7 linked regions of the Homo sapiens genome follow. The protein of the gene in region 7 interacts with the protein of the main gene of each other region in a pairwise test. Each region holds a gene or a part of one and is shown on either strand. Other genes may lie near its edges.

Evidence for each region.
Region 1: the proteins of ZBED1 (region 7) and NTAQ1 interact in binary tests that used the Homo sapiens proteins (3 or more experiments, as listed by UniProt).
Region 2: the proteins of ZBED1 (region 7) and TRIML2 interact in binary tests that used the Homo sapiens proteins (3 or more experiments, as listed by UniProt).
Region 3: the proteins of ZBED1 (region 7) and MKKS interact in binary tests that used the Homo sapiens proteins (3 or more experiments, as listed by UniProt).
Region 4: the proteins of ZBED1 (region 7) and EFHC1 interact in binary tests that used the Homo sapiens proteins (3 or more experiments, as listed by UniProt).
Region 5: the proteins of ZBED1 (region 7) and FAM124B interact in binary tests that used the Homo sapiens proteins (3 or more experiments, as listed by UniProt).
Region 6: the proteins of ZBED1 (region 7) and GGACT interact in binary tests that used the Homo sapiens proteins (3 or more experiments, as listed by UniProt).

The regions. Positions count from the first base shown.
Region 1 is NC_000008.11:123,426,774-123,430,273, forward strand, and holds part of NTAQ1 (protein N-terminal glutamine amidohydrolase), read left to right. Parts: intron 1-1,150; coding exon 1,151-1,250; intron 1,251-3,209; coding exon 3,210-3,260; intron 3,261-3,500. UniProt on the Homo sapiens protein: Mediates the side-chain deamidation of N-terminal glutamine residues to glutamate, an important step in N-end rule pathway of protein degradation.
Region 2 is NC_000004.12:188,103,104-188,106,603, reverse strand, and holds part of TRIML2 (probable E3 ubiquitin-protein ligase TRIML2), read left to right. Parts: intron 1-593; exon of another isoform or gene 594-1,013; 5' UTR 1,014-1,235; coding exon 1,236-1,424; intron 1,425-1,671; coding exon 1,672-1,767; intron 1,768-3,500.
Region 3 is NC_000020.11:10,403,223-10,406,722, reverse strand, and holds part of MKKS (molecular chaperone MKKS), read left to right. Parts: intron 1-1,035; coding exon 1,036-1,476; 3' UTR 1,477-3,500. UniProt on the Homo sapiens protein: Probable molecular chaperone that assists the folding of proteins upon ATP hydrolysis. Plays a role in the assembly of BBSome, a complex involved in ciliogenesis regulating transports vesicles to the cilia.
Region 4 is NC_000006.12:52,440,842-52,444,341, reverse strand, and holds part of EFHC1 (EF-hand domain-containing protein 1), read right to left. Parts: intron 1-3,500. UniProt on the Homo sapiens protein: Microtubule inner protein (MIP) part of the dynein-decorated doublet microtubules (DMTs) in cilia axoneme, which is required for motile cilia beating.
Region 5 is NC_000002.12:224,392,108-224,395,607, reverse strand, and holds part of FAM124B (protein FAM124B), read left to right. Parts: intron 1-3,500.
Region 6 is NC_000013.11:100,578,790-100,582,289, reverse strand, and holds part of GGACT (gamma-glutamylaminecyclotransferase), read left to right. Parts: intron 1-3,500. UniProt on the Homo sapiens protein: Contributes to degradation of proteins cross-linked by transglutaminases by degrading the cross-link between a lysine and a glutamic acid residue. Catalyzes the formation of 5-oxo-L-proline from L-gamma-glutamyl-L-epsilon-lysine.
Region 7 is NC_000023.11:2,488,456-2,490,976, reverse strand, and holds part of ZBED1 (E3 SUMO-protein ligase ZBED1), read left to right. Parts: intron 1-204; 5' UTR 205-257; coding exon 258-2,342; 3' UTR 2,343-2,521.

The sequences.
Region 1 (3,500 bases), on a different chromosome or scaffold from region 7:
ACATGGTGAAACACCATCTCTACTAAAAATACAAAAGTTAGCTGGGTGTGGTGCTGCACGCCTGTAATCCCAGCTACTCAGGAGGCTGAGGCATGACAATCACTTGAACCTGAGAAGTGGAGGTTGCAGTGAGCCGAGATCACACCACTGCACTCCATCCTGGGCAGTGAAGTAAGACTCTGTCTCCAAAAATAAATAAATAAAAAAAATAAAATTATGTCCCTTTCTTACTAGAGGGGCATGGGGAATCCCACTCACAGGGATTCCCCCAAATGAGTTCCCGGACATATCACATAATTGCTCCTGATTCTTTCCAGCCAGGAGGCTTTCAACCCAAAACACCCATCCTGCCCCATTTCTAAAGAGAGCAGGGAACCAGTGTTAACTAAGATTTTTGTGTGTTTACAGTATATGATTATGCCCATTTTACACATGAGAAAAGCAGATTCTTGGAGAAGTCAAGATGGTCAAAGCTTTTTTTTTTTTTTTTTTTTTTGAGTTGGAGTCTTGCTCTGTTGTCCAGGCTAGAGTGCAGTGGTGTGATCTTTGGCTCACTGCAACTTCTGTCTCTCAGGTTCGAGCAATTCTCCTGCCTCAGCCTCCCAAGTAGCCGGGATTACAGGCACCCGCCACCATGCCTGGCTAATTTTAGTATTTTTAGTAGAGACGGGGTTTCACCATATTGGTCAGGCTGGTCTCTCTGCCAGGCTGGTCTCGAACTCCTGACCTCGTGATCCGCCCGCCTCGGCCTCCCAAAGTGCTGGGATTACTGGCCTGAGCCACCACGCCTGGCCTTTGTCAAAGGTTCTTACCTTGTAAGTGGCTGAGTTAGAATTTCAGCTGTATTACAAGTTGCTGGGCCCAAAACTCATAGAATATTGACATATTTTATCAGTTATAAAATGCCTCCATGTACAAGCACTGCTAGGGGAGGTAATTAGCTCTGTGTGGAGAGGGGTTTACACACAGTATAGGTTGAATACCAGCTTGTTGGGATGTTTTAGAGGAGATTCAGACATTAGCCAGTTGTTGGATGACATGGGGTTTAAGGTCTTTTCCAACTTTTTGATGTCATCATCAGTATTTTGTTCAAATTTAAAAGACACATAGAATGTTCTCTAATCTTGATTAAACAATTATTTTATTTCAGTGAAGAAAATATTTGGAAGCTCTGTGAATACATCAAAAACCATGACCAGTATCCTTTAGAAGAATGTTATGCTGTCTTCATATCTAATGAGAGGAAGATGGTAAGTTGGTGAGTGATTGCAGAAAGAAAACAAGAGATTTAGGATGACATTAGAAGCTAAATTAAAAAAAAAAAAGCTAAATATAGCATGGGTGTAGTACTCTTCTGAAGTGTGCTTTATTAAATACAGCAACATTTAAAAGCTTGCTTTTGAATGAGATTTTTTTCCTTACAAGGCACGATTGAGTTAGAAGAGTTGAGTCCCTTCTGTCGCCCAGGCTGGAGTGCAGTGGCGTGATTCTTGGCTCACTGCAACCTCCACCTCCCGGGTTCAAGCGATTCTCCTGCCTCAGCCTCCCAAGTAGCTGAGACTACAGGCATGTGCCACCACGCCCAGCTAATTTTTGTATTTTTTAGTAGAGATGGGGTTTTGCTATGTTGGCCAGGCTGGTCTCGAACTCCTGGCCTCAAGTGATCCTCCCACCTCAGCCCCCCAAAGTGCTGGGAGTACAGGTGTGAGCCACCATGCCCAGCTTAGTCCCTTACTTTAGGTAAGGAAATATGTGATGGTCTACGCAGATAAAGTCCCTTTTCTTTAGGTATCAATGTAGACCTGTTTTTTTTTGTTTGTTTGTTTGTTTTTTCTTTTATTTTTTGGTACGGAGTCTCACTCTGTTGCCCAGGCTATAGCACAATGGTGTGATCTCGGCTCACTGCAACCTCTGCCTCCCAGGTTCAAGTGATTTTTGTGTCTCAGGCTCCCAAGTAGCTGGGACTACAGGTGTCCCACCACGATGGCCGGCTAATTTTTGTATTTTCAGTAGAGACAGGCTTTCTCCATGTTGGCCAGTCTGGTCTCGAACTCCTAACCTCAGGTGACCTGTCTGCCTTGGCCTCCCAATGTGGTGGGATTACCAGCATGAGCCACTGTGCCTGGCCATTTTTTTTTCTTTTTTTAAATTCAAGATGGAAGATGTAGACTTTTTAAAAATTGCTTAGAGACGCATACTCTCAGTTTTAAAGTAAGGATTTGTCTCTGGAGTTTAAATAGAACTACAGTCAACTTACATGAAGAATTAGAAAAAGTAAGCCCTTCATATTTTGTAAAACACATTTGCAGGCATCATCTCATTTGATCCCAATGGAAGCCCTGTGAAGCAGGCAATATTTGGACAAGTTTCTTCATTTTATAGATGAAGAGATTAAGACTTAGGGTGGCCCTATGAATAATTAAATGGGAGAGCAAGATTTGATACCTGCCAGGACTTCTGATTCCTAGTTCAGATCCCTTTTCACTCTCCAAAGACCATCATACAATAACTAGTGCTCTTGAGAGCTTTCATTGTTGGGGATACTTAGAAGGATTTCGATTTCTTCCTCTTCATTCATTCCTTCACCTTGATTTTTGCATGCTTAAAAATATTTTATTTCTCATGTATGTATTGCTTTAAATAGTAGTAGCCAGGTACAGTGACACGTGCCTGTAGTCCCAGCTACTTGTGAGGCGGCTGAGGCGGGCAGATCTCTTGAAGCCAAGAGTTCAAGGCTGCAGTATACTATGATGGCACCTGTGAGTAGCCACTGCACTCCAGCCAGGGCAGCATCACAAGATCCTGTCTTGGCCAGGTGCGGTGGCTCACGCCTATAATCCCAGCACTTTGGGAGGCTGAGGTGGGCAGATCACTTGAGATCAGGAGTTCGAGACCAGCCTGGCCAACATGATGAAACCTTGTGTCAAAACCCTTCATCAAAAAATAAAAATAAAAAATTAGCTGGGTGTGGTGGCACACGCCTGTAATCCCAGCTACTTGGGAAACTGAGGCAGGAGAATTGCTTGAACCCGGGAGGTGGAGGTTGCAGTAAGCCCAGATTGTGCCACTGCACTCCAGCCTGGGTGACAGAGCAGGACTCTGTCTCAAAAAAAAAAAAAAAAAATCCCGTCTCAAAAAAAAAAAAAGGAAAATAATTTAGTAGTGGTTTAACTAAAGGTATGGCTTACGAAATGTATTGTATTTTGTAGATACCTATCTGGAAACAACAGGCGAGACCTGGAGATGGACCTGTGATCTGGGTAAGACAGTTAATACAGAGAGTATTGACGCATTATGACTTGTAACCCCTTAGTGTTCTGTATGTTTTGGTAAAGCAGAAGTGACCTAAGCAGTAGAGAAAGGCTATGGTAATTATTAATAAATTGACCTTTTGAGAATAGATGTTATTTGATCTAAGGTAGAAACACTGTAGGCATATTTTCTTTTAACTTTTTGTTTTGAAATTATTATAGGAATGATTTTAAATGGTGGATATATTT
Region 2 (3,500 bases), on a different chromosome or scaffold from region 7:
TCACCTGGAGGGCGTGTAGCTCCGGGGCGCGGACCAAGAACTGCATGTTGGTGACTGAACCGCGGTTCCGGCTGCCGCCCCCGCGAAGATGGAGTCAAAGAGGAAGGAGCGAGGGCGCTCACGGCCAGACCGCGGGCAGCGCGTCACGTCACTCCTGAAATTTTATTTCGGAAACAATTATTGAGAAGAGTGGCTTTGGCTTCACTGTTTTGCAAATCTCTTTAATTGATGGCTTCTTAGAAGAGCCGTTTTCGGCCGGGCGCGGTGGCTCACGCCTGGAATCCCAGCACTTTGGGAGGCCGAGGCGGGTGGATCACGAGGTCAGGAGATCGAGACCATCCTGGCTAACACGGTGAAACCCCGTCTCTACTACAAAAATACAAAAAATTAGCCGGGCGAGGTGGCGGGCGCCTGAAGTCCCAGCTACTCGGGAGGCTGAGGCAGGAGAATGGCGGGAACCCGGGAGGCGGAGCTTGCAGGGAGCCGAGATCGCGCCACCGCACTCCAGCCTGGGTGACAGAGCGAGACTCCGTCTCAAAAAAAAAAAAAGAGGAGCTGTTTTCCCTTATTTGCTTCCCCATTCCTTCTGTTGCATGTGTTTTGTCCCAGCTGTAGTCCCAGCTACTCCGGAAGCTGAGGTGGGAGGATCGCTGGAGCCTGGGAGTTCCAGAGGCTGCAGTGAGCCGTGGTCACGCCACTGTACTCTAGACTGGGCAACAGAGCAAGACCCTGTCTCTCAAAGGGAAAGTATTTTAATAACTTTTTCAGATACTTGTGGTTTTTTTCTGTAATTCTATCAACGAACCTCTTTCGCACTCTGTTACCTCACTCTAGTCCTGAAGTTCCTTCAGTAATTAGCGCGATGCCTTTAGAGCACTGTTTTCCCCTGAATGACTCGTAAGTGAGTGCTGTTCCTTGTAATTAATTTTCAGCCTATTGCTCAAGATTGTCAGAAGACCTGAGGGAAACCCGCTGGTCTTAGAACACTGGCCTAACTCTGTCTTTTCCCCAAGCAGGCAGCTGCCAGAAATTTGTTGGATTTGAGGAGTCCAGAGCGCCGACCCGCTCTGTCTGCGTGGACTTATTTCCTTGGATCTTCGTGGACTCTGAAGTTGCCAAGTGTGTGTGCCTGCTCCAGAAAACAAAGGAAGCCACCATTTTTTCTCATTCACAGTGCAGGGAGATACCTCAGTAGAAGCATACAGTCCAGTCTTCAACTAGGGACCCCTACCAGGATGTCCAAAAGGCTCAGCCCTCAGTTACAGCACAACATCACAGAAGATGCCTATTGTGAAACACACCTGGAACCAACACGGCTGTTCTGTGATGTTGACCAAATCACACTCTGCAGCAAATGCTTCCAGTCCCAGGAGCACAAACATCACATGGTGTGTGGGATACAAGAGGCTGCTGAGAATTACAGGGTAAGAGTCACTCACGCAAATCCCAAAACACTCTGGCCAACTCCTATATGGATGAAATGGACAGACATTCTGGTCCTCCAAAACCATTACCTTAGTTGATGTTTATTACAGAATATTAGATAAGTTCGTTGAACCTTCAACCTAAAGGCTAAGAAAATATATACTCAGAGTTGTTGGCTGTTTAAGGTCAGGAATCCAACTGTTCTAAATCAATGATCTCACCTGGAATTCTGTGCTTTCTCTATAGAAGTTATTCCAGGAAATATTGAACACATCGAGGGAGAAACTTGAAGCAGCTAAAAGCATATTGACTGATGAGCAAGAAAGAATGGCGATGATTCAGGTCAGTGAGTGCTTATCTTGATTCTTGGGGGGAAATTACCAGTAATGTTGTTAGAAAATAGTGTATCATAAACAAAGTCAAAAGACAAATCACAAAGCAGGAAAAATGTGAAATCTATAGGAAGGAAAAGTGCTAATATCTTAATGTATAAAAAGCTCTTTAAAGTCAGTAAGAAGCTGGGTGTGGTGGCTCACGCCTGTAATCCCAGCACTTTGGGAAGCTGAGGAGGGCGGATCACTTGAGGTCAGGAGTTTGAGACCAGCCTGGCCAACATGGTGAAACCCCATCTCTACTAAAAATACAAAAATTAGCTGGGTGTGGTTGCACGAGCCTGTAATCCCAGCTACTCGGGAGGCTGAGGCAGGAGAATCGCTTGAACTGGGAGGCAGAGGTTGCAGTGAGCCGAGATCACACTACTGGACTCCAGCCTAGGCCACAGAGCAAGACTCCATCTCAAAAAAAATAAAAATAAAAAAAGTCAGTAAGGAAAAGACTAGAAATTTAATTTTAAAAAACGATCAAATAAGAGTTTGCAGAAAAGAAAGTAAATATATTTTAAATACATTGAAAGAATTTGAACTTTGTTCGTGGTAAGAGAAATACAAATTATATGGTGAGTAAAATGGCATTTGCAATGCTATTTGCAATGATCAAAAAGATTAACGACACCGTTTATAACAATGACATAGGAGAATGAGCATCTCTTGTACTTCTGGTTGCCACATAAATTCTAAAACCCTTTAAAGAGCAATTTGAGAATAGCTATTCAGATTTGAGGGTTCACCACCTGTTAGGCATATTTCACTTCTAATTTCAGCCTGTATCTTCATACTTAATCCTATTCTGTGCAAGGTATCCCCGATTCTGGGTCTTTTCTCTCCCTCAATTTTTAAAGGAAATAAATGCCTACTTAGGGAAGATAGTGGAGGAGAATTGCCTGGCTAGGTAAGGATTTTTCAACCGATCCCCCTTCTTTTTCAGTTCCAAGTACCATGTGTTCAGCAAATACTGAGATCCCACTGTTTGCCAGGGACTATGCAAGGTGCTAGGGGCTCACCAATGGAAAACAAAAAAAACCAGCTCTGCTTTCGTGGAACTTGCATTCTAGTGGATATAAACAAAATAAGTTTAATATATAGTATGTTACCTGGGAAGTGTTTAAAAAAATTTTTTTTAAGTGAGAAAGGAAGCAATGGAGTGAGCTTGTAAATAAAGTGATCAGAACCTTGTTATTCAGAAGGTGGCACTGAAGGAGGTGGGGGATTGGGCCATGCAGTTTTCTTGGGGAGGAATATTCTAGGCAGAGGAAAGGCCTGGAGGCTGCCGTGTATGTGGCTGGAGCTGTGTAAGGAAACGGGGGCTGTAGGTGATGAGATCAGAAGAAGGCGGTCAGTCATTTAGGGTGGCAGCCTTCAATGAAATACAAGCTTCAAAACCACTGGAAGGTTTCGAACAGAAGGCTGACATGATTTAACTTCCATTTTCATAGAAACACGCTAGCTGCCAAATGAAAATAGACATTAAGATAGTAAAAGCAGGCTGGTCGTGGTGGCTCATGCCTGTAATCCCAGCACTTTGGGAGGCCGAGGCGGGCGGATCACGAGGTCAGGAGATCGAGACCATCCTGGCTAACACGGTGAAACCCCGTCTCTACTAAAAAATCGGGTGTGGTGGCAGGTGCCTGTAGTCCCAGCTACTCAGGTGACTGAGGCAGGAGAATGGCATGAACTTTG
Region 3 (3,500 bases), on a different chromosome or scaffold from region 7:
TGTCTTGAGTAGGAAAGTAGTCACTGTTTTTAAGCAGTTAAGATATGGATTTTTTAACCCATCATTCAGTTATTAGTTTGCTAATACAGACATGTTGCTTAACAAAGATATATTCTGAGAAATGCATCATTAGACAATATTGTTGTGCAAACAATATAGAGTGTACTTGCACAAACCTACATGGTAGAGCCTACCACACTCCTAAGCTATGTGGTATAGCCTATTGCTCCTAGGCTACAAACCCTTACAGCATATTACTGTACTGAATACTGTAGGTAATTGTAACACAATGGTATTTATGTATCTAAACATATCAACACACAGAAAAGGTTAGTAAAAATATGGCCTTATAATCTTATGGGACCACTGTTGTATATGCAGTCTATCATTGACTGAAGTGTTGGTATGTGGTGCATGGCTATATATTAATTTTTCTTTTTATCATGGAATTTCTAGGATAAACATTTTTAAATAGTGGAACCAGAAGACTGTTTAAGGTCTTATTACCTTTTCATTAATTTAAAGAGAAGAATATTCATTTTTAAAACATTGATATGAAAATTTACATCATGATTTCCAAATAAAAATATGTGCATTCCCATTTTAAGCAAATCTCAAACATTTTGCAGAGATAAATAAGTACTCCATTTGGGACATCAGTCTTCAGGAACTTCCTCCTGTGTGCAGAAAAACCTGTAATACATGTATTATGCCTAGTCCTTCATGTATTAAGGAGGCACTACCAAGCCTCATTCAGAATAAGCTGATGGTGGGGTTATTCTGATTCACTCATTCTGGTAACATGACTGGTAGTATATACATTTTTAATACATTTTTACTATAACCAACCTAGTTAAGGGTTTGCAACCCGGCCGGCTGACCCATACAAGCCCGTTAGCATTGTGCCAGACCCCAAATTAAATGAAAGTAAGTAATTACTTTAGGAATAAGATTTTGATTTCAGTATCTTATTTTTCTGAAACATTTTATATTAATTGCTTTGTATGTGTTTTCAATGTTTTTATTACTCTTTAGACTCACAACGACCCAGAAAGCATTCTCAAAGATGATGAATGTACTCAAACAGAACTTCAATTAATTGCTGAAGCATTTTGCAGTGCCCTAGAATCTGTTGTTGGCTCTTTAGAACATGATGGAGGTGAAATTCTCACTGACATGAAGTATGGACACCTTTGGTCAGTTCAGGCAGATTCTCCCTGTGTTGCTAACTGGCCAGATTTGCTTTCACAGTGTGGCTGTGGATTATACAATAGCCAGGAAGAACTCAACTGGTCTTTCTTAAGAAGCACACGTCGTCCATTTGTGCCACAAAGCTGCCTTCCACATGAAGCTGTGGGCTCAGCCAGCAACCTGACCTTGGACTGTTTGACTGCAAAGCTTAGTGGCCTACAGGTGGCTGTAGAGACAGCCAATTTGATTTTGGATCTTTCATATGTTATTGAAGATAAAAACTAAGAGAATAGCATGTTCGTATTACAAGAGAAACAAATAAACTAGTCTGTTGGCAATTGAGAAAAATTGTGAGTGTATTTGTTTTCTCCCAAAGCCCTGTTCTACATATTTGGACAAATGACTCATAAAATTATAGATACACTTATTTAGGAAAAAAGGTGATTCGTGAATGGAAATGCCATGAAACAATAAAAATATGAAGCATTATTTATTTAAAAATATTATAGTTATCTTAGGGATTCTATACTGGCTGCTGTACATTGTTCTAAATTTTTGTTATGTTGGCATCATTTTGAGAGCAAACAAATAAAAAAGACTCCTAATCCATGCTCTAGTTTGGATATACATATTTTAGATATTTTCCAGTTAGCAGTAATTACATATGCTTAAAGTATAAAACTAGATCTCAAAGTGTCACAAAACATTCAGTATATATTGCTCAATCAAAAGAAGTATTCAAACTGCACATTTAGTAAAATTTCACTTTTCTCCATGCCCTTTATCTCAAGCTATATTCTTCAGTGGTTAGGTAATTGAGTAGAACCTGGTTTGCCTGCAATTTGTAGTTTATATCACAACTCCACATTTTTGTTATTTTGGGGAAATGTTTGCTTTTGGGGGGAAAAAGTAGATTTATATAGTAACCAAGGCTAAAGCAACATTGTAATGTCTTCATTTTTAAAGTGGGAAGAAGGACTGGTTTGTTTTACACTGGGGTTTCTCAACTTTGGCATTATTGACATTCTGAGCCCCATAATTCTTTGTTGTACGGAGGCTGCCCTGTGCATTACAGCTTACTGAGCAGCATCCCTGGCCTCTGCACACTAGATGCCAGTAGCACCCTCCTGTTGTGACAACCAAAAATGTTTCCAGACATTGCCAAATGTCCCCCGAAGAGCAAAACTGTTGTTGGTTGAGAACCATAGACTGATAGAAAAAGGAAGGACAATAAGGAGTATTCTAGCAGGACTTCAGAAAGCAGCATAAAGGGAAGGGGAAGTTATTTCTCTAGTCAATAGTATGAAAAAGAAAGTAGAAAATCTCCCATGTTCAAAGTAGAGACATTATGTTTCACCAAGGGATGTAGTTTGAATTTTATGCAAATATAAGATGTATTGATAAATTGAAGAAGAAATATAGAAGGCAGCCACATGAATAAGCATGGAGCTATAACAAATGTTGTATTAAACTTTAGGAAAATATTTTGGAAATTTTTGGGAAACAAACCAACCTAATAGTCAATGATCAGATCTATAGCCATGATAAAGAGAAATAGAATTGTTAAACAATTTCCTCTGATATTCTTGTAATCAAAAAGAATTTTTACTCTGAGCCAAAGGAAAAAACTAGCAATACAAGCAGCAATGCCATCCATATATGTTAGGTATCAGCCCCACCTGAAGTCTCATAAAATATTTATCAAAAGTTTTACTCCTTTTATTATTACAATCAAATAGAAGGGCAGTGTGGTAGGCAGCCTCTAAGGTGGCCCCACCTCCTAGTTTCAGACCTTGCATAATTTCCTCCCCTTGAGCATGGGCTAGACTTAGTGACTCCTTTATGTCTCCCATTTCCCAGCTTTGTGGACAGAATGTTATGGTGATGGTTATGGTTATGCCTTATCCATAATTTTATGCTGTGAGTAGAAGGCAGATAACTTTTCTCTAGTTTCATGGGTCTACAGATGGAAAGCAACTGTGTTCCAGGAACTGTACTTAAAGAACTACCTCCTGAGGAAGCCTGGGGTGATTCCAGTTATGATATCACCCTGACTTGATTCCAATTATGAGATTCTGAACTTTGAGCTGATGTTGTAATGCAAAAGTGAAACTTTTGAGGATCTGAGGAGTAGGGGGGACGTATTTTGCATGTGGTAGGCAGCCTCTAAGATGGTTCCCAATAATCTCACTTCCTGGTGGTTCACTCTCTGGGTGTAGGTGGGACCTAATGACTAGCTTCTAATGAATAGAATACAGCAGAAGGGACAGGATATCACTTCTGATATTTGGTGGTAAAAAGATGAGTTT
Region 4 (3,500 bases), on a different chromosome or scaffold from region 7:
CACCACTCCTATTCAACAGAGTGTTGGAAGTTCTGGCCAGGGCAATCAGGCAAGAGAAAGAAATAAAGGGTATTCAATTAGGAAAAGAGGAAGTCAAATTGTTCCTGTTTGCAGATGACATGATTGTATATTTAGAAAACCCTATCCTCTCAGCCCAAAATCTCCTTAAGCTGATAAGCAACTTCAGCAAAGTCTCAGGATACAAAATCAATGTGCGAAAATCACAAGCATTCTTATACACCAATAACAGACAAACAGAGAGCCAAATCATGAGTGAACTCCCATTCACAATTGCTTCAAAGAGAATAAAATGCCTAGGAATCCAACTTACAAGGGACATGAAGGACCTCTTCAAGGAGAACTACAAACCACTGCTCAATGAAATAAAAGAGGACACAAACAAATGGAAGAACATTCCATACTCATGGGTAGGAAGAATCAATATTGTGAAAATGGCCATACTGCACAAGGTAATTTATAGACTCAATGCCATCCCCATCAAGCTACCAATGACTTTCTTCACAGAATTGGAAAAAATTACTTTAAAGTTCATATGGAACCAAAAAAGAGTCTGCATTGCCAAGACAATCCTAAGCCAAAAGAACAAAGCTGGAGGCATCACGCTACCTGACTTCAAACTATAGTACAAGGCTACAGTAACCAAAACAACATGGTACTGGTACCAAAACAGAGATATAGACCAATGGAACAGAACAGAGCCCTCGGAAATAATACCACACATCTACAACCATCTGATCTTTGACAAACCTGAGAAAAACAAGCAATGGGGAAAGGATTCCCTATTTAATAAATGGTGCTGGGAAAACTGGCTAGCCATATGTAGAAAGCTGAAACTGGATCCCTTCCTTACACCTTATACAAAAATTAATTCAAGATGGATTAAAGACTTAAATGTTAGACCTAAAACCATAAACACCCTAGAAGAAAACCTAGGTAATACCATTCAGGACATAGGCATGGGCAAGGACTTCATGACTAAAACACCAAAAGCAATGGCAACAAAAGCCAAAATTGACCAATGGGATGTAATTAAACTAAAGAGCTTCTGCACAGCAAAATAAACTACCATCTGAGTGAACAGGCAACCTACAGAATGGGAGAAAATTTTTACAATCTACCCATCTGACAAAGGGCTAATATCCAGAATCTACAAAGAACTTAAACAAATTTACAAGAAAAAATAAAACAACCCCATCAAAAAGTGGGCGAAGGATATGAACAGACACTTCTCAAAAGAAGACATTTATGCAGCCAACAGATACGTGAAAAAATGCTCATCATCACTGGCCATCAGAGAAATGCAAATCAAAACCACACATCTCATGCCAGTTAGCATGGAGATCATTAAAAAGTCAGGAAACAACAGGTGCTGGAGAGGATGTGGAGAAATAGGAATGCTTTTACACTGTTGGTGGGAATGTAAACTAATTCAACCATTGTGGAAGACAGTGTGGTGATTCCTCAAGGATCCAGAACAAGAAATACCATATGACCCAGCCATCCCATTACTGGGCATATACCCAAAGGATTATAAATCATGCTGCTATAAAGTCACATGCACACATATGTTTATTGCGGCACTATTCACAATAGCAAAGACTTGGAACCAACCCAAATGTCCAACAATGATAGACTGGATTAAGAAAATGTGGCACATATACACCATGGAATACTATGCAGCCATAAAAAATGATGAGCTCATGTCCTTTGTAGGGACATGGATGAAGCTGGAAACCATCATTCTGAGCAAACTATCGCAAGGACAGAAAACCAAACACTGCATATTCTCACTCATAGGTGGGAATTGAACAATGAGAACACTTGGACACAGGGTGGGGAACATCACATACTGGGGCCTGTCATAGGGTGGGGGGTGTGGGGAGGGATACCACTAGGAGATATACCTAATTGAATGACAAATTAATGGGTACAGCACACCAACATGGCACATGTATACATATGCAACAAACCTGCACGTTGTGCGCATGTACCCCATAACTTAAAGTATAATAATAAAATAAATAAATAAATAAACTAGGTATTAAAGGAACACACCTCAAAATAATCAGAGCCATCTATGAAAAACCCACAGCCAACATTATATTGAACAGGGAAAAGCTGGAAGCATTCCTCTTGAAAACTGACACAAGAAAAGGATGCCCTCTTCCACAACTTCTATCCAAGACAATATTGGAAGTCTTGGCCAGAACAATCAGTCAAGAGAAAGAAATGAAGGACATCCAAGTAGGAAGAGAGAAAGTCAAACTATCCCTGTTTGGAGAAAACATGATTCTATATCTAGAAAACTCCAGAGCCTCATCCCAAAAACTCCTTAAGTTAATAAACAACTTCGGCAAAATTTTAGGACACAAAATCAACATACAAAAATCACTAGCACTCCTATACACCAACAACAGCCAAGCTGAGAGTAAAATCAGGAACACAATCCCATTTACAACTGTCACAAAAAGAATAAGATACCTAGGAATACAGCTAACCAGGGAGATGAAAGATCTCTACAATGAGAATTACAAAACACTGCTTAAGGAAATCAGAGATAACACAAGCAAATGAAAAAACATTACATGCTCATGGATACGAAAAATCAATATCTTTACAGTCACCATACTGCCCAAAGCAATGTACAGATTCAATGCTATTCCTATCAAATTGCCAGTGACACTCTTCACAGAACTAGAAAAAAATACTTTAAAATTCAATGGTACCCAAAAAGAGCCTGAATAGTCAAGGCAATTCTAAGCAAAAGAACAAAGCTGGAGGCATCATGTTACCTGCCTTCAAACTATACTACAGGGCTACAGTAACCAAAACAGTACAGTACTGGTACAAAAACAGACACATAGACCAATGGAATAGAATAGGGAGCTCAGAAATAAGGCTACACACCTATAATTATGTGATCTTCAACAAAGTTGACAAAAATAAGCAATGGGGAAAGGTGCTGGGATAACCTGCTAGCCATATGCTAGCCATATATCTTACACCAGATATAAAAATCAACTCAAGATAGATAAAAGACTTAAATGTAAAACCCAAAACTATAAACACCCTGGAAGACAACCAAGGCAACACTATTCTAAACATAGGAATGGGCAAAGATTTCATGACAAAGACACCAAAAGCAATCACAACAAAAGCAAAAATTGACAAATGGTATCTAATTAAACGTAAGAGCTTCCGCAGAGCAAAAGAAAGCATCAACAGAGTAAAAAGACTATCTAAAGAATGGGAAAGAAATATTTGCAAACTATGCATCTGACAAAGGTCCAATATGCACCATCTATAAGAAACTTTAATTTACAAGAAAAAAAGCAAAGAACCCCATTAAAAAGTGGGCAAAGGACATGAACAGACACTTCTCAAAAGAAGACATACACATGGCCAATAACCATATGAAAAAAAAGCTCAACATCACTATCATTAGAGAAATGCAAATCAAAACCACAATGAAATATCAT
Region 5 (3,500 bases), on a different chromosome or scaffold from region 7:
TTGGCAGTTTTAATTCTGCTGTCTCAATTCTTAGTGGGTGCAAAATGATAGTGGGTTCAACCTTCCCTTTATTCGTTCAAACAGTCCCTCTGCTTTTCTCCCTGTGCTTTTGCCTCTGGTGGTAGTGACAGTGTCAGTGTGTTCTGGGGGAAGGTAGCATGGGTGATGATGTCCGCCTCTTTTTTTAAACCTCCTGCAACTTAAACTGTGCCCTCAGTCAAATTAGCTATTTTGTCAAATCAACCACATGCTGCAGTATCTCTAGTCAACTACTGCTGGCTTTCAGCTTTCCACAGCTGAGACCCGTGTCCAAAGTTGTATTTTTTGTACTTTTTATAGATTTTTTTTCAATTTTTTGCATTATGGCTCTTCTCCCCTGATTCACCTGCTGATGCATTCATCTCCTGCCCTCCTCCTGGCAGGGGCAATCCAAGGGTAGAGTCCATGACTTTGGTGTCAGGCTCTGGCAGACTCTAAATTCCAGGTCACTGAGTTAGCATTGGTGATCTTCTCATTCTGTTTGATGTACAGTAGGCAAACTTTATAAATTAAATGATAAACCTCCCTCAAAGCCACTTGAAACGCTCAGCAAGGTCTATATTTCATGGCCCTGTGGGAGATGTGACAGCCATGATCTTGTTAGCCTTTGGGTGGGTGTTCTGTGTGGTATCACACTGCCCTGGTGGTCTAATGAGGAGCTGGACCCTCCTGCAAGCGCCTGCAGTACCAGGCAGCCTGCAGGAAATGCACTGTAGAGCTGCAGCCACCCACCTTGTGTGTAGGGAAGGAGAAGGTGAAATTGACTGAGGATGTCAAGTAACATGGAGGAAGTGTGACTTGGGGGATTGACTGAATGGGCTGTAGCAAAGTATAGGGCTGGAGAGTTCAAAGGAGTTTAGAGAATTTTTTGTGCACTGAAAATGGGTGCAGGAGGACACAAAATGGGATTTGAAGAAATCCATTTATTACGGTGTTTAGAGAAGGGGCAGACATGCTCATACCTATAATATATAATTTAGGACCATAATCCTGTTAGCATCAAATAGGACAGGTTGGAAGGGGGCTTGACTGACCACTTCAGAGGGGACTTCAGTTTTCCAGTCAAAGCCGGTGCAGTTTTGAAATAGGGAACTCATAATGGAAATAGGAGGTTAAATTGCATGGGTAGACTTGACTGAATTTGGCAGTAATTGGACATGGAGGGTGAAGAAGAGGAAGGTGATGATGAGTCTGGACACATTGGGCTTGAAGTGCTTGCAGGTCTTTCAAATGAAGAGATTCCATGGTCAGGTGGTCTCTGAGGGCTGGAACTCAGGAGGGGGCATGGGCTAGGGGCATAGGTGGAGTTGGTGGCTGAAGCCCTGGAAAGGATCAACATTACCAAGGAAGAGAGTGTAGAGAGAGAAGAGGTAAAGAGAGTGCCTGGAAAATGCGTGCACTTCCGGAGGAGAGGGAAGAAGAACCAGTGAGAGACGCTGAGAAGAAGCAACCACAAAGCCAGGAGGACGAGGAGATTGTGGTGTCATGGAAGTCAATGTCGCTTGGTGGCTTTCAGTCCCTAAGATGTGGCTTCTCAGGTGTGCTACAGCAGGTCCTTCAGGTTCTGTCCTGGTCTCCTCACTGGGCCCCCAGTTGCTTGTGTGTTGCCATTGCCCCTGGAGAGATCAGCACCTGCTGCAGGCCCTGTGTCCTCCACCAGTAACTGCTGCTACCACCACTCCGGGCTTATGGAACCGTCCCCAAACACTGCTGAGACCAAGCTGTAATTTCAACAAGATCTTTCTGAAGAGTTGAGGACAAAGAGGTGGGGAAAAACCCCCCAAAGAATTCTAGGCCAGAAGAATAACTTACAAGTACTTCTAGATGTCGCTATTCTCAGAGCTCCCAGGCAAGCTATGGCCTTGAGGTCCCTCCCAGGTCTCCTCCAAGTCTTCTTTACCCACTTCTCCTGGAGGTGCTCCAGGCCAAACTCACACAGTGAAGGAGGATGGTTTTCTCCCTTCTCTCTGAGGTCCACCTTCCAGGTCTTCTTTCCTTGATAAGGGTGACTGCTTCCCAAGTTGACTAAATGGGAAAGGTCACACACACCTCGCCTCCCACCACCATTGTTTGATGTTCAGTAGGAAAACTTTATAAATTACAAGATAAAACCTCCCTGGAAGCTAGAGAGGTTTTAGAATAGGGTGGTGTCCTATTCTTGCAACCTGGGCAGGACAGATAAGTAACAGAACAAGAGTACAACATCAGTACAGTCTGGGGTGTACCATCTCAACAACACATGTTGGTTGCCGGCCATCCATTCTGGAGGCTTTTCCTGACTTAATCATAGGGATGAGCTGAAACTCATGCCTGTGTATCCTTCTTGCAGTCCTGGGGCCTCACCTCTGGATCTCCTGCAATCAGCACCTGAGCTAGAATCCACATAACTCTCCAAGACAGCCATGTGGGAGAAAGTCATGTGATTTTGAAAGATTTGGTTTCACACATATGCTCTCAATGTAGACCCATTTCTCAACTGAGACCCATTTCTCTAGACGAATGCACTGTCCTCTAGGACTTTCTGTGATGATGAAAATATTCTGTATCTGTGCTATTCGATACGGTGGCCATTCGCCACATGTGGCTACTGAGCATTAGAAATATGGCTGGTGAGACTGATGAACAGAATTATTAATTTTATTATATTTTAACAATTTAAATGGCCTTATGTGGTTGGTGACTGCTGTATTGGACTGCCCTGGCCTAGGTTATTTCTAAGGTCTCCTGCATCTTGAAGCTTCTGTAACTATACTGTGTATAGCCTCGTTGGTGACAAAACTTTATCTCTTATCTCATCTGTTGTTTTTTTTTTTTGAGACAGAGTCTTGGTCTGTTGCCCAGACTGAAGTGCAGTAGTGTGATCTCGGCTCATTGCAACCTCCCTCTCCCAGGCTCAAGCTATCCTCCTGCCTCAGTCTCTGGAGTAGCTGGGACTACAGATGTGCACCATCATGCCCGGCTAATTTTTGTATTTTTTGTAGAGACCGGGTTTTGCCATGTTGCCCAGGCTGGTCTCAAACTCCTGAGCTTAAGTGATCAGCCAGCCTCAGCATCCTAAAGTGCTGGGATTACAGGCATGAGCCACCATGCCTGGCCTATCTCATCTTTTTTCTTTGCTTTTTTAGAGAGAGGGTCTGATCCTGTCACCCAGGTTGGAGCATTAGTGGCATGATCATAGCTCACTGCAGCTTTAAACTCTTGGGTTCTAGTGATCTTCTCATTTCAGCCTCCTGAGTAGCTGAAACTCTAGGCGTGCATTACCATGCCTGGATAAGTTTTTAATGTTTTGTAGAGATGGGAGTCTTGCTATGTTGCCCAGTCTGAACTTGAACTCCTGGTCTCAAGGAATCTTCCTGCCTTGGCCTCAAAGTACTGTGATAACAGGCATGTGAGCCACCGTGCCAGCGCCAAATCCTCATCTCTTAAGGGTAGAATTCAGTTCAATTTTTGGAAACAATCAA
Region 6 (3,500 bases), on a different chromosome or scaffold from region 7:
TAGGTCATCATAAGTTTTGAAGTTCCTCCCAACAGTAAGAGGAAGTTATGGTCAGATTTATTGCCCCAAATCTGAAATCAGCTGTTTCTCCAAGGAGCCCTGGTTAGCTGTTTTAAAGTGAAAAATGGTACTTAAAGGCCATAATCTGGCCCTAATAAGGTGCTCATTGCTGTTGGATTGGCAGTTGTTTTTAAGCCATTTCAACAGACAGAGACAGGGAAAACCATTGTTCAAGATAAAATATTTCATGAGCGCATACTGGTAACATCCAAGTCTTTTTCTGGACTACAACGTTTTTGCTTAATGTCATAGAACTTATATCCATACCCCTTTCTTCCACTCCAGAAATCTCAGTTCAGAACAACCCAGCATAATTTATTATTTGCTTTAGCCCTCACCCCACAGAGTCACTGCCACAGGGGTGTGGGGATTGGGAGGAAGACCATGGAGATAAAGTGTCATTTTTGCTACATCGTATCAAGCACACATACTGTCTACATGACTTCTCTCTTTTGCTGTTGATCTTGATTACCTGACTGAAATAGTGATTGGCAGGTTTCTCCACTGTAAAGTCACACTTTCCCCCTCCCTTCATACTGTGCTCTGAAAGGAAGTCACAGTGAGCAGCCTGCACTTCTGAAGGGAGGAGTTATTTAGGCTTCATCTCCTTAAGGGGAAAGTGTCTACATATGTTATTTGGAATTCTTCCGTGCAGGAGGGTTATCTGTTTTCTTGCATTTATTTACTCAGCCATTTATATCATTATGGACTCACAGATACTTATATTATACTTTAGGTTCTAATCCAATACTCCTTATTTTGTTCTCCAGTTGTTCCTGCTTTGGCCATTGGGAGCCTGTTCCATTGTCTCTTGTGTCCTTTCAACTTGTCCCATCTTTGTGGGCTGGTGGGTTTGTTTATTTTTGAGCACTTCCTTGCTTTCCAATATTGCTAGATGCCCTAGATTGATCTTGTGTATTTCCTGCTTCAGTCTTAGGTTCAGCCGTTTCTCTGGGGAACCCTGGTCCCCTCTGTTGGAGATGGTGTTAGAAACCACAAGCTGGATGCTGGTGTGCTCATTTCGACTGTGGTGGCATTGCTTTTAGGTCCTCTCAGCTGATGGAGCAAGGAAATGTCTGTGTGTACTGACCTGTGTATATACACATATCACTAAATACTTCTGTATGGAACCATTTGTTTCTGTGAGTCCACACTGGTGTCTCCAGCCCTAATCCTTTACCCCGTGGATCACTCTTGCGTTTTCCCTGCTGTCTCTCACCTCCCATTCCAACAGTGAGAAACGTGGCTCCCATTGCCTGTGGCACATTTGCCTACTTGTTCAGTACATATGTGTGTATCACAGTGTTGGAATTGCCATCTCGCCCTATGGGAACCACTTAAACAACGAGAGCCCGGTTTTTATGAATATACACAGTTCCTTTTGCCTTTAGTCTTGTAACTGTAGACTGGGCCAACAGGTGAAAGTTTCTTTGGGCAGGCTGAAATGAGATCCTACTACCTTGAGAACATCTTAACAGTCAGATCTACAGGGTGCAGATTTCATAGCTTCCCCCTGGCAGTTCTTCCATCACTTGTGAGCCCTGGCTGTTTTATTCTGCCTAAGCCAAGGCAGCCTTTGCTATCCTGACTTGACACAGAAGAGTTACTTAGTAACTGTGTTCATTTGCTAGGGCTTCCATAGCAAATTACCACAAACTGGGAAGCTTAAGACAACAAAAATTTATTCTCTGCTCACAGAATCCAAAACCAGAAATCAAGGTGCTGTCAGGGCTGCCCTCCCTCCAAAGGCTGTATGGAAAGTCCTTCCCTACCTTTTTCAGCTTCTGGCGGCTCCAGGCGTTCTGCGGCAAGTGGTCGCACACCTCCCGGCTCTGCTGTGTCTTCACATGGCCCCCTCCTCGGTGTCTGTCTTCTGTCCCTCATAAGGATATTTGCCATTGGATTCAGGGCCCGTGTAGATTGCCCAGGATGATCTCATCTCAGCTTCCCTAATTAATCACATGTGCAAAGTCCCTTTGCCGTGCGAGGTGCCATAGTCAAAAGTTCCAGGGATTAGGGCATGGACATGTTTGCTGGGGACCTTTGTTCTGTCAGCCTCACTTTGTGATGCAGCAGCAGTCGCAGGATCAGAGCAGATCCCCAGGCATTTTTGGCAGAGTAAGACCAGGTGCCAATCCCCGAGGTGTGTTTCTGCTGCTCTTATACACCGAGGCAGACCCATCAGGTCTAGACCCAGCAGGCCCCTCTTTCCTCAGCGCTGAAGGGAGGGGGCTTTGGGCTGACAGGAGACCTAAGTTCCACGTGTGAATTCCATCAGCAGAACGGTGCTCAGAACCTTCTGATTCACTCTGTAGGGGCAGAAAGGGGGTGATCCCTCTCTACCCTGTCATAAGGGTCATGGCTGACACCCCAATGACAAAGATTAACAATAGAAAAGCAAAACGTGTTCAATCATAGTTTTAAATGACATAGGAGCTTTCAGAATGAAGACCCAGAGACCCAGGGTGAACTCTCCAGATTTTGCTTAGATGTGAAGAAGCACAGACCGCCATGTGGAAATTCATTTGGAAAAAAGGGTGTGAGCTGATGGAAATAGACCGAGTAGGGAAGCCCAGCAAGGCCTGTCTCCTCAGGTTCTTCTTGGCCTCTCTGTTGTAGCATTTCTTCCTTCCAGGAATGGGGTAGGACCCTCTGGAATGAGGGTCTCATTGTCCAAGGTCTTTATGGCCAGCTGTTATACAGAAAGGCATGGGGAAGGCTAGAGAGTAGTATTTTTAGGTTTTATGGCTGGCTTTGGGGAAAGGGGTTCTGGTTCCTGTCACCTGCACTGGGGAAGAGAAGTTCTGGATCCTGTGGTTTGTCTTGGGGGAGGATGAGAGGGGCAAGACACACGCAGGAGAAAGTCAGAGAGACTGAGCTGCTGAACCCCTCAACTCCTAGGCCCTCCTCTCCCCACAGCTGTGGGTACTCCTGCCTCCGTACCCTGGGGGTGGTTTTGCTGCAGTTGCTCTTTTATTTGAATTTCATGTTATTTTGTCTTGCATAATTAATTGTTTTTGCATGCTAGCCTAAACACTGCAGGGCTGTGAGCTCTGATTGGGTGAGAACCATGCCTTCCTCATTCGGAGTCCGCCATCATGCCTTCCACATAGTGGGCACCCAGTAAGAAAGAACTCATTTCCAGCTAGTCGAGAGTGTTTTTACAGAACTGATGTTCTGAGTCAGGCCAGAGTAAATTAGAGTAAGGAAGAGTATATGCGGGAATACTCCCCATATTATGCTGTGTTCCTGTCCATTTTTCAAATGACCACATTTACTTTTCAAGCTTTTGAGTGTTAATTACCTCTTCCTGCTGTTGTCATCTGTACTTGGGAGTACGAGGCAGGTAAGTTAAAGAAAATTAATATTTTTACATCTCATGATGGTTTTATTAACTTTCCAGCATTAAATGAGGTTTGAAAAGTGTTCTTTGAGCCATT
Region 7 (2,521 bases):
TTAACGTGGAAGAAAGAGCGTATTCCTGCGCTAGGTTCCCTCCTCCACTCTGCAAAAGTGACCCGCAAGGAAGGTCCAGCCGTCCGGCCCCAGTGCCCTTTGGTTGAAAGCGGAGCTGCCCCGGCACCCTGTCTGTCTCCCCGGCAGGGCTCCCGTGCGTGCCTGGGTCCCTTCTCATGCTGTGTTTGTCTTGGCCCTTCTCAGCAGGTCCCCACGCATGAGCAGCCGTCCAGCAGGCAGGCTCCGGTGGAGAAGCAATGGAGAATAAAAGCCTGGAGAGCTCCCAGACAGACCTGAAGCTGGTGGCCCACCCCCGCGCCAAGAGCAAGGTGTGGAAGTATTTCGGCTTCGACACCAACGCCGAGGGATGCATCCTGCAGTGGAAGAAAATCTACTGCCGCATCTGCATGGCCCAGATCGCCTACTCCGGAAACACCTCCAACCTGTCCTACCACCTGGAGAAGAACCACCCCGAGGAATTCTGCGAGTTCGTCAAGAGCAACACGGAGCAGATGCGTGAAGCCTTCGCCACCGCCTTCTCCAAGCTGAAGCCCGAGTCGTCCCAGCAGCCCGGGCAGGACGCGCTGGCCGTCAAGGCCGGCCACGGCTACGACAGCAAGAAGCAGCAGGAGCTGACGGCCGCCGTGCTGGGCCTCATCTGCGAGGGGCTGTACCCAGCCTCCATCGTGGACGAGCCCACCTTCAAGGTGCTGCTGAAGACGGCCGACCCCCGGTATGAGCTGCCCAGCCGGAAGTACATCTCTACCAAGGCCATCCCTGAGAAGTACGGGGCCGTCCGGGAGGTGATCCTGAAGGAGCTGGCCGAGGCCACCTGGTGTGGCATCTCCACCGACATGTGGAGGAGTGAGAATCAGAACCGCGCCTACGTCACGCTGGCCGCCCACTTCCTGGGCCTGGGCGCCCCCAACTGCCTGTCCATGGGCTCCCGCTGCCTGAAGACCTTCGAGGTGCCCGAAGAGAACACGGCGGAGACCATCACGCGAGTGCTCTATGAGGTCTTCATCGAGTGGGGCATCAGCGCCAAGGTCTTCGGGGCCACCACCAACTATGGCAAGGACATCGTGAAGGCGTGCTCCCTGCTGGACGTCGCAGTGCACATGCCCTGCCTGGGCCACACCTTCAATGCCGGCATCCAGCAGGCCTTCCAGCTCCCGAAGCTGGGGGCGCTGCTGTCGCGCTGCCGCAAACTGGTGGAGTACTTCCAGCAGTCTGCCGTGGCCATGTACATGCTCTATGAGAAGCAGAAGCAGCAGAACGTGGCCCACTGCATGCTGGTGAGCAACCGCGTCTCCTGGTGGGGGAGCACGCTGGCCATGCTGCAGCGCCTCAAGGAGCAGCAGTTCGTCATCGCCGGGGTCTTGGTGGAGGACAGCAACAACCACCACCTCATGCTGGAGGCCAGCGAGTGGGCCACCATCGAGGGGCTGGTGGAGCTCCTGCAGCCCTTCAAGCAGGTGGCCGAGATGCTGTCGGCCTCCAGGTACCCCACCATCAGCATGGTGAAGCCGCTGCTGCACATGCTCCTGAACACCACGCTCAACATCAAGGAGACCGACTCCAAGGAGCTCAGCATGGCCAAGGAGGTCATCGCCAAGGAGCTTTCCAAGACCTACCAGGAGACGCCCGAGATCGACATGTTTCTCAACGTGGCCACCTTCCTGGACCCCCGCTACAAGAGGCTGCCCTTCCTCTCCGCCTTCGAGCGGCAGCAGGTGGAGAATCGCGTGGTGGAAGAGGCCAAGGGCCTGCTGGACAAGGTCAAAGACGGCGGCTACCGGCCGGCTGAGGACAAGATCTTCCCGGTGCCCGAGGAGCCTCCCGTCAAGAAGCTCATGCGGACATCCACGCCGCCGCCCGCCAGCGTCATCAACAACATGCTGGCCGAGATCTTCTGCCAGACAGGCGGCGTGGAGGACCAGGAAGAGTGGCATGCCCAGGTGGTGGAGGAGCTGAGCAACTTCAAGTCCCAGAAGGTGCTTGGCCTCAACGAAGACCCCCTCAAGTGGTGGTCAGACCGCCTGGCCCTCTTCCCCCTGCTGCCCAAGGTGCTGCAGAAGTACTGGTGCGTGACGGCCACGCGCGTCGCCCCTGAGCGTCTCTTCGGATCCGCCGCCAACGTGGTCAGCGCCAAGAGGAACCGGCTGGCTCCCGCGCACGTGGACGAGCAGGTGTTTCTGTATGAGAACGCCCGGAGTGGGGCAGAGGCGGAACCCGAGGACCAGGACGAGGGGGAGTGGGGCCTGGACCAGGAGCAGGTGTTCTCCTTGGGGGATGGCGTCAGCGGCGGTTTCTTTGGCATTAGGGACAGCAGCTTCCTGTAGCGAGGAAGCGTGTTGTCTTACAAGTCATCCCCGCAGCAGCCCATTGGATGCTTTGCTGTAAATACTTACCCGGTCAGCTTGGTTTTGAACCTCAGAGACCATCCACTGTCTTTGACACCTAGAAGGTGGAAAAAGGAAAGAGATTTGAGAAGTGAGAGAGGGTCGGGGGCGGTGGCTCC